Regions from separate parts of the Homo sapiens genome. Here all the other regions are reported to be linked to region 3. Evidence: microRNA targets listed by miRTarBase, many of them from high-throughput screens and not tested one by one. Region 3 holds a microRNA gene; each other region holds the end of a gene's coding sequence.
Evidence for each region. Region 3 holds the annotated microRNA hsa-miR-519e-5p (UUCUCCAAAAGGGAGCACUUUC, at 1,546-1,567, opposite strand). A microRNA usually pairs through its seed, bases 2 to 8, with sites in the 3' UTR of a target mRNA and lowers its output. Matches are read on the target gene's strand: a 7mer-m8 pairs with bases 2 to 8, a 7mer-A1 pairs with bases 2 to 7 and ends in A, and an 8mer does both.

Region 1: miRTarBase lists RPS26 as a target of hsa-miR-519e-5p. Seed matches in the 3' UTR shown: 7mer-A1 at 679-685.
Region 2: miRTarBase lists IL6R as a target of hsa-miR-519e-5p. Seed matches in the 3' UTR shown: 7mer-A1 at 594-600, 7mer-A1 at 3,648-3,654, 7mer-m8 at 3,778-3,784 and 7mer-m8 at 4,151-4,157.

Annotation. Positions count from the first base shown.
Region 1 is chr12:56,043,515-56,048,573 of GRCh38, forward strand. It overlaps RPS26 (ribosomal protein S26), which reads left to right. Exons shown (of 4, transcript NM_001029.5): 4 at 605-1,183. The coding sequence ends at 640. Among named protein-coding and RNA genes, the nearest start is that of RPS26, 4.1 kb to the left of the region's middle. RefSeq lists enhancers at 2,507-3,100, 3,691-3,985 and a cis regulatory region at 3,590-3,964.
Region 2 is chr1:154,465,115-154,470,173 of GRCh38, forward strand. It overlaps IL6R (interleukin 6 receptor), which reads left to right. Exons shown (of 10, transcript NM_000565.4): 10 at 20-4,336. The coding sequence ends at 266. It also overlaps a transcript of SHE not described here. Among named protein-coding and RNA genes, the nearest start is that of TDRD10, 35 kb to the right of the region's middle. RefSeq lists an enhancer at 1-352.
Region 3 is chr19:53,676,450-53,681,519 of GRCh38, reverse strand. MIR519E (microRNA 519e) reads right to left here and starts at 1,580; the gene lies at 1,497-1,580. It overlaps MIR515-1 (microRNA 515-1), which reads right to left and starts at 2,517; the gene lies at 2,435-2,517. The region is part of intron 2 of LOC107985342 (a long non-coding RNA gene); the gene reads right to left. RefSeq lists an enhancer at 3,325-3,825.

The DNA of each region.
Region 1 (5,059 bases), not on the chromosome of region 3:
TGGAAGCCAGGGGAGTGATGGTTAAAATTTCATCCTGGAGGGTCAGGGTGTCCTATACCTGTAACCTCAACACTTTGGGAGGCTGGGACAAGAAGATTGCTAGAAACCAGCAGTTCAAGACCCCATCTCTTCAAAAAATATTGAGAAGGAAGCCAAGCATGATAGTGTGAACCTATAGTCTGGCTGCTCGAGAGGCTGAGGCAGGAGGATCACTTGAGCCCAGGAGTTTGAGGTTGCAGTGAGCTATGATTATACCACTTGCGCTCCAGCCAGGGCAAAAGTGAGACCTTGTCTCTTAAAAAAAAAAAAAAGTTGCTTCCTCCTGTGGTGCAGGGGGTATCAAATTAAGGTCTGTGCCTCAGGTTAAGCTGTAAGGCAGGTGAGACCCACACCTGAACATGCTTAGAGACACTGCAAAGCAGTGTTAGAATCAGAATTGGTTTTTAGGATGCAGAGTAGTGTTCTCCCTCCACCTCTATCAGCTTCCCATGCATTTGTAGCCTGAATACATCAGTTTGTGAGAGGATGGTGGTCAAGTTCTTTGGGGGAAGGGAGTCTTGGATCCATGGGTTTTAATTTACTCTTTTGTTTCTTTGTCTTTCAGGGTGCTGCCCCACGTCCCCCACCAAAGCCCATGTAAGGAGCTGAGTTCTTAAAGACTGAAGACAGGCTATTCTCTGGAGAAAAATAAAATGGAAATTGTACTTAATATTGCATGTTAAGTGTATCTGTGCCAGATAAGGTGGGGATTTTGTGTGTTAGACCAAGTGTGAAGTGACACACATTATTTTCATGGGGAAGAAAGCTTATTCATGTAATTTAATTTTTTTCTTTTTTTTTTTTTTTTTTTTGAGACGGAGTCTTTGTCGCCCAAGCTGAATTGCAGTGGCGTGATCTCAGCTCACTGCAACCTCCGTCTCCCGGGTTCAAGTGATTCTCCTGCCTCAGCTTCTTGAGTAGCTGGGATTACAGGTGTCTGCCACCATGCCTGGTTAATTTTTGTATTTTTGGTAGAGATGGGGTTTCACTATGTTGTCCAGGCTGGTCTTGAACTTCTGACCTCAGTTAATCCACCAGCCTTGGCCTCCCAAAGTGCTGGGATTACAGGCTTGAGCCACCTCGCCTAGCTATTTATGTAAATTAAACTTTAATTGTGGTCGTATGGTTGGCCTCACAATTCGCATAGCTGTGTGAAATGGAGATTAGGCATCTGAATTTTGGATTTAACCACATCAAGTTTAAGTTGGCATCCTAAAAATGGGTAAACATTAGGAGAATGAGGAAAAGCTATTAGTTGAGTGAGGAGCACATTGGGAAGTGACCTAAACTGAGGTGTTTATACCCCTGGAGGGGGAACTTGAATAGTGGATGTATGACTTGGATAGCTTCAGAGCATAAAAGGATTAATGTTCAGATGCTCATCTTCCTACCTTGGAAAAGACACTAAAGGCATTTCTAGAAACGAGACATCCCGGAAATATAAGGTAGAGAAAGGCTCTACCTTATTTTTGTCTGTATGACAATAGTTTAATTTGTCCTAGAATTCAGGAAAAAAAAAATCTATTTGGGAGTAAATTGTTACTGACTTCGCCAGTGAAAGGTAACACCTGTATAGCTTGGAGATTTTAGACACTTGGGAGTCACCTGCACCCCTGCCCCCTTTCAAGCAGTTCTGCCTCAACCTCCCAAATAGCTGGGATTACAAGCATGCACCAGCTAGTTTATTTTTTTGGTAGAGATGGGGTTTCACCATGTTGGCCAGGCTGGTCTCAAACTCCTGACCTCAAATGATCCACCTGCCTCGGCCTCCCAAAGTGCTGGGATTATAGGTGTGAGCCACTGCACCCAGCCTAAGGAACGGGTAGAGATTTTAGAATGTGGAGGTTCTGTTAATTGGAATGCACTCCCCAACAGAAATCTGAGACAAGAACTGCTGACCTGACTTGACTGTCAGTACACCAGTGTTTGTACTGGAATATCTGTGGCAAACCCGGAGTGTGTAAGAGCACTGAATGTAGGCGATAATCTATATCCTTCAGGGAGTCTCAAGACATCAGTGCCCCTTGCAACCTGATCACACCAAGGGTAAACAGGAAGTGATAGAAGAAAATTAAGAGGTCCAAGGCAAAAATGGGTACTGAATCTGAGTGATCCCAAAGTCCAGCTTGCTCAACAGAACCAGATTCAAATAGTAAATCGTGATTGTGGGTGTACTTACAGAGCTGATCCAAGATTCCTCTTGAAGTGTCTAGAGTCACAGCCTGTCACGTGGGTCCTAACTACTACCTCTTCTGTGGGTTTACAAACTCACAACATACTCTGCATTCTAAGCGCAGAGTATGTTGTTTGATTGTCTCCATAGATTCTACTTTCAAGAACCTAGCTGGTAAGAATTGACTTAGTTTTTCGTCTTAATAATCCCAAACTTTGTTGTTTTTGAGATGGAGTCTCTCTCTCTTACCCAGGCTGGAGTGCGGTAGCCCGATCTCGGCTCACTGCAACCTCCGCCTCCCGGGTTCAAGTGATTATCCTGCCTCAGCCTACCAGTAGCTGGGATTACAGGTGCCCGCCACCATGCCCGGCTAATTTTTGTATTTTTAGTAGAGATAGGGTTTCACCATGTTGGCCAGGCTGGTCTTGAACTCCTGATCTCAAGGGATCAGCCCACCTCAGCCTCCCAAAGTGCTGGGATTATAGGCGTGAGCCACCGCGCCTGGCCAGGAATCTGCATTTTAATAGTGTCCCAAGTGATTGTGATGCAACTGGTCTGTGGACTATACTGCAGAGCAGATGGTGAAGGGAATGTTGCATTTGGAGGATTTTATTGATGATGAATCCTGGGTTCCAGAAAGCTGTGAAAGGGTTTCAGGAGATGGGGAAGAGTGCAAATGGGGTCAGAAAGGACTGCATGAGAACCAGAATCTGAGAGACGTGGAATGAGCTGGAGGCTTGGGCTTCTGGTGGTGACTGCACGAATAGGTGCAACTGAGCCATGGTGAACATCATGCTCACAAGCCAAGTGTGCAGTGTGACTTGGAGTCCCAACTCACTATCTACAGGCCCAGGGACCCTGACTTCACAGCTGCCTCCCAAGGCTATTTTCCTAACCTTTTCTCTCTACTCTCTTAGATCAGTGTTGGACTCATCATTTCTGAAATATGAGAATGTGTGGGAAGGCAGCAAGGTGAGATAGGCCCAGAAACATTGGGAGGGGTGTGGGGAGCACTAGGAGAGGAGGAGATCGATTGGGGTGGGGAAGAGGAATACAGTCTCCCTCCCACATCCCTGGACCCCAGAAAGAAGTCCTGAAGACACATCCTTTTTTCTAGTATAATGCACTATTTACCCTGATTCAGGCACTCTGAATGAAAGGTGACTTCCGGATCAGGCGCCCTGGCTCACGGCTGTAATCCCAACACTTTGGGAGGCTGAGGCGGGTGGGTCACCTAAGGTCAGGAGTTTGAGACCAACCTAACCAACACGGGGAAACCCCATCTCTACTAAAAAATACAAAATTAGCCGGGCGTGATGGCACGCGCCTATAATCCCAGCTACTTGGGAAGCTGAGGCAGGAGAATAGTTTGAACCTGGAAGTGGAGGTTGCAGTGAGCCAAGATCATGCCACTGCACTCCAGCCTGGCGAAAGTGCGAAATTCTTTCTGGAAAAAAAAAAAAAGAAAAAGAAAATTGGGTGACTTTCTCAGGCTACAGTTAAAGATGATGTCATGAGTAGTTAACCAGGCCTCATTGATGTTAGTACCTCGGGATGACCATAGAGGGCAGTGTCGTGCAGGAGTTAAGAGCCCAGCTTCGGAGTCTGACAGACCTAAGTTTGAGTCCTTCCTTCGCTCTTTGGTAGCTTTGTGTGTAGCTTTGGGCAAGTTACTCTATCTAAACCTCCAAAAATTAATTTAAAAACACTTCACAAGAACATTTTGAGAACTAAATGAAATAATCTTTGCAAAGGACTTTGCAAAGAACCTGCCAGATAGGCCGGGCGCGGTGGCTCACGCCTGTAATCCCAGCACTTTGGGAGTCCGAGGCGGGTGGATCACGAGGTCAGGAGATCGAGACCATCCTGGCTAACATGGCGAAACCCCATCTCTACTAAAAAATACAAAAAAAAAATTAGCCGGGCGTGGTGGCGGGTGCCTGTAGTCCCAGCTTCTCGGGAGGCTGAGGCAGGAGAATGGTGTGAACCCGGGAGGCGGGGCTTGCAGTAAGCCGAGATCACGCCACTGCACTCCAGCCTGGGCGACAGAGCGAGACTCCGTCTCAAAAAAAAAAGAAAAAAAAGAACCTGCCAGATAATGCAACATTACAAATGGCAGTGGTTACTATTTTTGGCCCAGTCTTACTCTGTAAGTCTTAAAAAAAAAATCAGTGTTTTTTTGCAGATTTATTGAGGATAATTGAAGTATAATACATTGTAGGTATTTAACGTGTACAATTTGAAAAGTTTTGTGTTTGTTTTTTTGAGACAGACTCTCACTCTGTCACCCAGGCTGGAGTGCAATGGCGCCATCTCGGCTCACTACAACCTCCGCTTCCCAAGTTCAAACAATTATACTGCCTCAGCCTCCCGAGTAGCTGGGATTACAGTCATGTGCCACGAGGCCCACTAATTTTTGTATTTTTAGTAGAGACGGGGCTTCACCATGTTGTCCAGGCTGGTCTTGAACTCCTGACCCCATGATCAGCCTGCCTCCGCCTCCCAAAGTGCTGGGATTACAGGCATGAGCCACTGCGACTGGCCGAAGTTTTGACATATACCCAAGTGTATACCCATGAAACCATCACCATACTCAAGATAATTAACATATAGATCACCCCAGAAGTTGCCTCTTGCTCCTTTGTAATCTCACCATCCTGCCACTCCCAGCACTGTCCCCAGGCAACCACTGACCTGCTTTCTGCAACTATAGATTAGTTTGCATTTCTAGAATTGTAGAATCGTACATAAATGGAATCCCACAGTATATATGTGTGTATACTAAAAACATATAAATTAGCCAGGCATGGTGGCAGGCGCCCATAATCCCAGCTACTTGGGAGGCTG
Region 2 (5,059 bases), not on the chromosome of region 3:
TTTGTGTGTTTGTGTGAAGGTTCAAGAAGACGTGGAAGCTGCGGGCTCTGAAGGAAGGCAAGACAAGCATGCATCCGCCGTACTCTTTGGGGCAGCTGGTCCCGGAGAGGCCTCGACCCACCCCAGTGCTTGTTCCTCTCATCTCCCCACCGGTGTCCCCCAGCAGCCTGGGGTCTGACAATACCTCGAGCCACAACCGACCAGATGCCAGGGACCCACGGAGCCCTTATGACATCAGCAATACAGACTACTTCTTCCCCAGATAGCTGGCTGGGTGGCACCAGCAGCCTGGACCCTGTGGATGATAAAACACAAACGGGCTCAGCAAAAGATGCTTCTCACTGCCATGCCAGCTTATCTCAGGGGTGTGCGGCCTTTGGCTTCACGGAAGAGCCTTGCGGAAGGTTCTACGCCAGGGGAAAATCAGCCTGCTCCAGCTGTTCAGCTGGTTGAGGTTTCAAACCTCCCTTTCCAAATGCCCAGCTTAAAGGGGCTAGAGTGAACTTGGGCCACTGTGAAGAGAACCATATCAAGACTCTTTGGACACTCACACGGACACTCAAAAGCTGGGCAGGTTGGTGGGGGCCTCGGTGTGGAGAAGCGGCTGGCAGCCCACCCCTCAACACCTCTGCACAAGCTGCACCCTCAGGCAGGTGGGATGGATTTCCAGCCAAAGCCTCCTCCAGCCGCCATGCTCCTGGCCCACTGCATCGTTTCATCTTCCAACTCAAACTCTTAAAACCCAAGTGCCTTAGCAAATTCTGTTTTTCTAGGCCTGGGGACGGCTTTTACTTAAACCGCCAAGGCTGGGGGAAGAAGCTCTCTCCTCCCTTTCTTCCCTACAGTTGAAAAACAGCTGAGGGTGAGTGGGTGAATAATACAGTATCTCAGGGCCTGGTCGTTTTCAACAGAATTATAATTAGTTCCTCATTAGCATTTTGCTAAATGTGAATGATGATCCTAGGCATTTGCTGAATACAGAGGCAACTGCATTGGCTTTGGGTTGCAGGACCTCAGGTGAGAAGCAGAGGAAGGAGAGGAGAGGGGCACAGGGTCTCTACCATCCCCTGTAGAGTGGGAGCTGAGTGGGGGATCACAGCCTCTGAAAACCAATGTTCTCTCTTCTCCACCTCCCACAAAGGAGAGCTAGCAGCAGGGAGGGCTTCTGCCATTTCTGAGATCAAAACGGTTTTACTGCAGCTTTGTTTGTTGTCAGCTGAACCTGGGTAACTAGGGAAGATAATATTAAGGAAGACAATGTGAAAAGAAAAATGAGCCTGGCAAGAATGTGTTTAAACTTGGTTTTTAAAAAACTGCTGACTGTTTTCTCTTGAGAGGGTGGAATATCCAATATTCGCTGTGTCAGCATAGAAGTAACTTACTTAGGTGTGGGGGAAGCACCATAACTTTGTTTAGCCCAAAACCAAGTCAAGTGAAAAAGGAGGAAGAGAAAAAATATTTTCCTGCCAGGCATGGTGGCCCACGCACTTCGGGAGGTCGAGGCAGGAGGATCACTTGAGTCCAGAAGTTTGAGATCAGCCTGGGCAATGTGATAAAACCCCATCTCTACAAAAAGCATAAAAATTAGCCAAGTGTGGTAGAGTGTGCCTGAAGTCCCAGATACTTGGGGGGCTGAGGTGGGAGGATCTCTTGAGCCTGGGAGGTCAAGGCTGCAGTGAGCCGAGATTGCACCACTGCACTCCAGCCTGGGTGACAGAGCAAGTGAGACCCTGTCTCAAAAAAAGAAAAAGAAAAAGAAAAAATATTTTCCCTATTAGAGAAGAGATTGTGGTTTCATTCTGTATTTTGTTTTTGTCTTAAAAAGTGGAAAAATAGCCTGCCTCTTCTCTACTCTAGGGAAAAACCAGCGTGTGACTACTCCCCCAGGTGGTTATGGAGAGGGTGTCCGGTCCCTGTCCCAGTGCCGAGAAGGAAGCCTCCCACGACTGCCCGGCAGGGTCCTAGAAATTCCCCACCCTGAAAGCCCTGAGCTTTCTGCTATCAAAGAGGTTTTAAAAAAATCCCATTTAAAAAAAATCCCTTACCTCGGTGCCTTCCTCTTTTTATTTAGTTCCTTGAGTTGATTCAGCTCTGCAAGAATTGAAGCAGGACTAAATGTCTAGTTGTAACACCATGATTAACCACTTCAGCTGACTTTTCTGTCCGAGCTTTGAAAATTCAGTGGTGTTAGTGGTTACCCAGTTAGCTCTCAAGTTATCAGGGTATTCCAGAGTGGGGATATGATTTAAATCAGCCGTGTAACCATGGACCCAATATTTACCAGACCACAAAACTTTTCTAATACTCTACCCTCTTAGAAAAACCACCACCATCACCAGACAGGTGCGAAAGGATGAAAGTGACCATGTTTTGTTTACGGTTTTCCAGGTTTAAGCTGTTACTGTCTTCAGTAAGCCGTGATTTTCATTGCTGGGCTTGTCTGTAGATTTTAGACCCTATTGCTGCTTGAGGCAACTCATCTTAGGTTGGCAAAAAGGCAGGATGGCCGGGCGCGGTGGCTCACGCCTGTAATCCTAGCACTTTGGGAGGCCAAGGTGGGAGGATTGCTTGAGCTCAGGAGTTTGAGACCAACCTGGGTAACATAGTGAGACACCATCTCTATTATGAACAATAACAGTTAAGAAAAAAAAAGGCAGGCAGGCGGTTATGGTGGTTCCCTCCCATCCCACCACATAAAGTTTCTGAGACTTGAGAACAGCAAAATGCTGTTAAAGGGAAATATTAAGAATGAGAATCTGCAGTAAGGGTGATTCTGTGCCCACAGTTCTTCAATTCTTTATACCGTTTTACCCACATGTGGTGTTACCAAAGCCGGGCAGAACCATGCTAGCGGAAGATGTGAAATCCAGATAGCTCATTATTGCCAAGAGCTAGGCAGCTTTGATCTCCAAATTGTTATTGCTTTCATTTTTATTGTAATGGAATTGCTTTGTTTTGTTTTTTTGTTTTTGTATTGAAGAGGGTTGTTTTCCCTTTATTTTTCATAAGCTAATGTAAATGAAGAAAAAATGTCTTCTCTGGGCTGTAGGCCTGGCTCAGCGTACACAGGTATACATCCTAAGCTCTCTATGTTCTCTAATCTGTGGTGACTGAACATGTGTCTCAATGCACGGGGCATTTCTACCTGTGTTTCTGCAGCACCCCCACTGCCTTGAGTCCCCAGCAGTGCTGTTATTTGCCTAACACCTGTAGCCATCTGCCACGCAGCCAGACGTGAAACGCTGAGACAGAGACCATTTAGGTTAAATACGACAGCTTATCCTGCTGGGTGGGGAAAGTAAAAAATATGCTGGTTCAAGGCCTAAAGTAAAATGATCAATAATGTTTGTAGCATTAATGAAATATTTTCAAGAAATGTGTCCAGGGGTAGCACTGGCTATGTTGACGAGGCCTTTGGTAACTCAGAGAGCTCTTGGCCCTGATGGGGACTTGCCCTTACGCTTTCTTTATCAGGCTCTGAGTTCACACGGAGCCTCTGGCACTTCCCTGCTGTCTTGGGAGAAAGGAAACTGGTTGCCGCGGCAGGTTGTGGAATCTGTTGCTGGAACCAGGCTGGAAGCCCACCTGGTAGTGAACAGGGCCCAGTGGGGCAGGCTGGGCATGTTGTGGTCTATGGGTTTGTTTCCTGGAGAATGTTCAGGAATGTCTTCCCAGCTGCTTTGGTGCTGAGCTCTATTATCTCACAGCACGTCCAGAAGGCTAACCCAGGTGGGGAGGATGCTGACACCAGCTCCAGGTGGAGTTGGTGGTCTTAATTTGGAGATGCAGGGGCAACCTGTGACCCTTTGAGGCAAGAGCCCTGCACCCAGCTGTCCCGTGCAGCCGTGGGCAGGGGCTGCACACGGAGGGGCAGGCGGGCCAGTTCAGGGTCCGTGCCAGGCCCTCCTCAGTGCCCTGTGAAGGCCTCCTGTCCTCCGTGCGGCTGGGCACCAGCACCAGGGAGTTTCTATGGCAACCTTAGTGATTATTAAGGAACACTGTCAGTTTTATGAACATATGCTCAAATGAAATTCTACTTTAGGAGGAAAGGATTGGAACAGCATGTCACAAGGCTGTTAATTAACAGAGAGACCTTATTGGATGGAGATCACATCTGTTAAATAGAATACCTCAACTCTACGTTGTTTTCTTGGAGATAAATAATAGTTTCAAGTTTTTGTTTGTTTGTTTTACCTAATTACCTGAAAGCAAATACCAAAGGCTGATGTCTGTATATGGGGCAAAGGGTCAGTATATTTTTCAGTGTTTTTTTTTCTACCAGCTATTTTGCATTTAAAGTGAACATTGTGTTTGGAATAAATACTCTTAAAAAATACCCTTGAAATGTAATTATTGCTTTGGGCATCTGGGTCATCTAAAAAAAAAAGGCTTGCCTGATTCATGAGGAGAAAGGAGTGAGGAAGGGGGGATAATTAAGTAGAACCATTTTTGGGGGGGTATCCCCTTAATGCAGGATTAAAGGACCGCTCAAAAGTAGGTAAGTTCAAGGAAGAAGCAGCAATTTCTCAGAAGGCTTTAATTATGACAGTATTTCCCACACGAGTCCTGGGATTTCTGGAAGGGGTGTGTGGGATTTTGCCACGCTTACATCACATTACCAGGTGGTGGACAGGTGGGGAAGGAAAAGGAAGGGCCATTATTTGTCAGAAGACTGTTTATTGGACCTGGGAGGGGGTGTAACACTATCACAAAGGCCACCCTGAACTCTTGATCATCAGATAGACCAAATCCATCCCCTACTGAAAAGGATCTTAGGTAGGAAAAACTTGGGACACAGCCATCCACATCTTCCAAACAGAGGAAAAGCCATCATGCGGACTCTTTGTGGGTGAGAGCTACTGTGTAAACAGTTCAGGGATGGGGAGGCGAGAACTGCAGGGAAGCCTGGAAATTATGTAACTCCACTCAAAGCTGGACTGAGAGGCGCCGCCTCTGGGCCCCCACCTGGGCAGTCAGAGGAAAGCCACAGGACAGGTGATGGTGGCCGCCATCTCCTTCAGGACACCATGCTCTCCTCTTTGAGGCTGGTCCTTGTCTT
Region 3 (5,070 bases):
AGTTCCAGCACAGGGACACACAGTCCCGATGGGAGCATCCAAAATGGAATCTACTATGTTCAAGAATATACACTGTCTCACACACAAACATCCTGCAGGATAGACCACAGGGTATGCTGTATAAGCTCCTCAATAAATACAGAAATACACAAGTATGGGTGGGGCGTGGTGGCTCACACCAATAAACCCAGCACTTAAAGAGGGCAAGGCAGGAGGATCACTTGAGCTCAGGAGTTCGAGCTCAACCAGCATGGGTAATATGGTGAAACCTTATGCACAAAAAATAGAAAAGTTAGCTGGGTGTGGTGGTGCGCACCTGTAGACAAGTACTCAGGAGGCTGAGGTGGCAGGTGGAGGTTGCAGTAAGTCGACATGGCACCACTGCACTCCAGCCTGGGTGATAAAGCTAGACCTTGTCTCAAAACAAAACAAACAAACAAACAAGAAAAACACAGAAAGAAACAAGTAAATAAATACCCAAAGTGATACAAGAGTATTCTCCGTGTGTAGAACAGGGTTTGGTGTACATATGACTACATTATATACATGATAAGACTATATGATTAAATATACATCATATATTGTTGAGACCCTGTCTATGAAAAAAAAAAAAAAGAATATACTGTTTGCTCACATTAAAAATAACTCCTCACCGGGTGCGGTGGCTCATGCCTGTAATCCCAGCAGTTTGGGAGGCCGAGGCAGGTGGATTAGTTGAGGTCAGGAGTTTGAGACCAGCCGGACCAACATGGCAAAACCCCGATTCTACCAAAAGGACAAAAATTAGCCGGGGTGGCGGCATGCACCTGAAATCCCAGCTACTCAGGAGGCTGAGGCAGGAGAATCGCTTGAACCCGGAAGGCGTAGGTTGCAGTGAGCCGAGATCATGCCACTGCACTCCAGCCTGGGCGACAAGAATGAGACTCCATCTCAAACAAACAAACAAACAAACAAACAAAATTCCTACACACAAGTGCTTGCTTTGGCAGCACAAAAAAATACAAATAATAATTAAAAAAAAAAAAAAAAACACCCTGCAGTCCGAGCAGGGTGGCTCATGCCTGTAATCCCACCACTTTGGAAAGCAGAGGCGGGCAGATCACCTGAGGTCAGGAGTTCAAGACTAACCTGGCCAATGTGGTGAAACTCCATCTCTGCTAAAAATACAAAAATTAGCCAGGCGTGGTGGCACGTGCCTATAATACCAGCTACTTGGGAGGCCGAGGTTGCAGTGAGCAGAGAATGTGTCACTGCCTGCCCGCCTGGCCCACATAGTGAGACTCTGTCTCAAGAACAAAAACAACAAAAAAAGTAGGGGGGACCAACTAGCCTAAGAGGTCTAGGTTGGAAGCGCCACCGCACTCCTGCCCGGGCAACAGAAACCCTGTGTTGCAAAAAAACTAAACAAAAACAGAACCCCAACATCATGCAAGTCTGATGATAAGCACGCTCTGCAAATGCGTTACCAAGATCAGCATCAACTTCAACGTGGTTTTTCTCAAACAGTAACACTCTAAAAGGAGGCACTTTGTTTTCTTTCAAACAGAAAGTGCTCCCTTTTGGAGAATGACTGCATGAGATCTTCTCGCTCCAAAACTCTGGGTTTTTGTTGGAATTTTCCTTACCAGGTTAAAATGGACACAAAAATAAAGATGCATTCATTGTCCCTGTTTGCATGTTTTCTGGAATCCAGAACATAAACCCCTAAAAGGACCATCTCCAGTTCCTTGCTTCAAAGGCTCAGCAGGTTAGCCTTGTTCACGAAGGGGCAACCCTCCTGAGTATTGTCTCCAAAGAGAAAAAGCAAAGCCTACCACACATACCTTATATTTAACCAAGAGAATTGGGCTGGATTTCTAGAGAACAGCAATGGATTTTGAGCCATGTGTTCACTTGAGTTCCAGCACAGGGACACACAGTCCCGATGGGAGCAACCAAAATGGAATCTAAGATGATATTTAAGAATATACGTTGTGGGCCAGGCACAGTGGCTCATGCCTGTAATCCCAGCACTTTGCGAGGCCGAGGCAGGTGGATCACCTAAGGTCAGGAGTTCAAGACTAATCTGGCCATCATGATGAAACTCCGTCTCTGCTAAAAATACAAAAATTAGCCAGGCGTGGTGGCATGTGCCTGTAATACCAGCTACTCGGGAGGCAGAGGTTGCAGTGAGCAGAGAACATACCACTGCACTCCAGCCTGGGCCACAGAGAGAGACTGTCTCAAGAGAAAAAAAAGGGGGAGGGGGTGGGGGCAGGGACCAACTGAGCCCAAGAGGTCTAGGTTGGAAGTGTCACCGCACTCCAGCCTGGGCAAGAGACCCTGTGTTGCAAAAAAACTAAACAAAAACAGAACCCCAACATCATGCAAGTCTGATGATAAGCACGCTCTGCAAATGTGTTACCAAGATCAGCATCAACTTCAACGTGGTTTTTCTCAAACAGTAACGCTCCAAAAGAAGGCACTCTGCTTTCAGACAACAGAAAGTGCTTTCTTTTGGAGAATGACTGCATGAGATCTTCTCACTCCAAAACTCTGGGTTTTTTGTTGGAATTTACCTTACCAGATTAAAATGAACACAAAAATAAAGATGCATTCATTGGCCAGGCGCGGTGGCTCACGCCTGGAATCCCAACACTTTGGGAGGCTGGTCAAGAGACCACGACCATCCTGGCCAACATGGTGAAACTCCGTCTCTACTAAAAATACAACCATTTGCCGCCTGTGGTGGCATGTACCTGTAGTCCCAGCTACTCGGGAGGCTGAGGCAGGGGAATTACTTGAACCAGGAGGCAGAAGTTGCAGTGAGCCGAGATCGTGCCACTGCACTCCAGACTGGCAAGAGTAAGACTCCATCTCAAAAAAAAATAAAAATAAAAATAAAAAAGGTGCATTCATTGCCCCTGTTTGCATGTTTTATGGAATCCAGAACATAAACCCCTGAAAGGACCATCTCCAGTTCCTTGCTTCAAAGGCTTAGCAGGTTAGCCTTGTTCATCAAGGGGCAATCCTCCTGAGTTTTGTCCCCAAAGAGAAAAAGCAATGCCTACCACACATACCTTATCTTTAACCAAGAGAATTGGGCTGGATTTCTAAGGATGTTGAGCCAGTGTTCACTTGAGTTCCAGCACAGAAACACACAGTCCTGATGGGAACATCCAAAATGGAATCTAAGATAATGTTTAAGAATATACATTGTTGTACACACAAATACCCTCCAGGACAGACCACAGGCTAGGCCGTAAAAGCTCCTCAGTAAGATTTGACAGAGCTGGGGGGAAAAAAAGAATGTACATTGTCACACACACGAACATTCTTCAGGATAGACCACAGGCTAGGCTGTAAAACCTCAATAATTTTTTTTCTTGGAGACTAAGTTAGGAAAAACAAATGCCCACACCTAAACAACCAATCATTTCTAGTTCAAGTACATCTCAAGTATACTGTTGACCTGAAATAGAAAGTTAACCGGGTTTCCCTGCTCTGGGAAGCCCCCTTTGGTAATTCAGTTAAGGGTCTCCTTTGGAAGGTAATGGGTAGGAACATGGAGATGTCAGCCAAGGGAAGTGACTCTCAGGGATTTCTATGGATTATGCAGATGCCCTGCCAGATCCCAAACTTCCCCAAAAGATCCTAAGTCCAGGCAGGAAGGACCACTGGGGTCCAGAAACCAAATGAAGTGGCCCTGGGCAGGAGTCTCTGTTGTCAGATTCCATGACTAAGACAGCCAGGGAGCAGAGTGAAAATCCCAGGGGCTCTCTCTCCAGGAGACACCTGCTCCATCCAGATCAAACCCAAAATGTCCCCAGCCAGTGATGCCTGGCTCTCCTTTCCCCTCGGCTCATCCTGCCTGCATCGGTGCAGTGCCCTGACGTTCCCAGTCCAGAGGGTGGAGGTTGCAGTGAGGGGAGATCACAGACTGTCAGAGCCTTCCTCTCTCCTTGCCTATGCATGGGTTAATATTCACCTGAAGTCCCAGCTACTAGGGTACGCATAGGAGCACAGCCCAGTTTAGTCTGGGTGACACAGTGAGACCCCCATCTCTAAAATTTAAAAATTAAATCAAATGTGCAATTTTTTGACCTGTTCATGCACACTACATTTCGGCTGCATTTACCCAATAAAAACTCAGAGCCCATGCACTCCACCTCCGTGCGCTTGCTAAGCAGTGCACATCCCATCAGCAAGGGACACTGAGGTCCCCTCCAACTCTACCTCAACCCAAGAGGTGTTCTATAAAGCAGTGCAGGCAGAACTTCCATGGAGTAAGAGGTGTTAAGGGCTGGACGAACAGGCATCGCTCACTGTGGCAACAACAAGAGCTGCTGAACATCCCACCTGTTACTAGAGAGACCCTTCTAGGGTTCTAAAGGACCCTATTTTTGCGAAAATATCTGTGGTTTTGTCTCATGTGACATTTGTCACTGTGATTGAGATGGATTTTCTTTACAATAGTTTATATTAGGCACAGCAAACATTTTAGATCTTGCCAAGCAACCTGTATTCAGAGGCGAGGTTTTGCCTGTTGGAATGGTACATTGGAACCGCTACCCACAGGAAACAGGATAAATGGTCCAGCTGTAGTCAAAAGAACTCACTAGGGTTGTTGGCATTAGTGGTTGAGGGTTGAATCAACTATAAGCTTCTCACAGAGGAAGCAGGTCTATTCTGAGAAATGATGGTAAGCTGTTAGGAAGGAAAAATTTTCAGTGTCAGGGACAAGTAGATTAAAATAAAAAGACAAATGAACAGGAAAAAAAAAATCCCCATTGGGGACTGCAGAACAAGACTGGACAGGCCGGGCGTGGTGGCTCTCGTCTGTAATCCCGGCACTTTGGGAGGCTGAGGTGGGTGGATCACGGAGGTCAGGAGTTCGAGACCAGCCTGACCGACATGGTGAAACCCCATCTCTAGTAAAAACACAAAAATTAGCTGGTCATGGTGGCAGGCGCCTGTCATTCTAGCTACTTGGGAGGCTGAGGTGAGAGAACTCCTTGAACTCAGGAGGCAGAGGTTGCAGTGAGCTGAGATTGCACCATTGCACTCTAGCCTGAGTGACAAGAGCCAAGC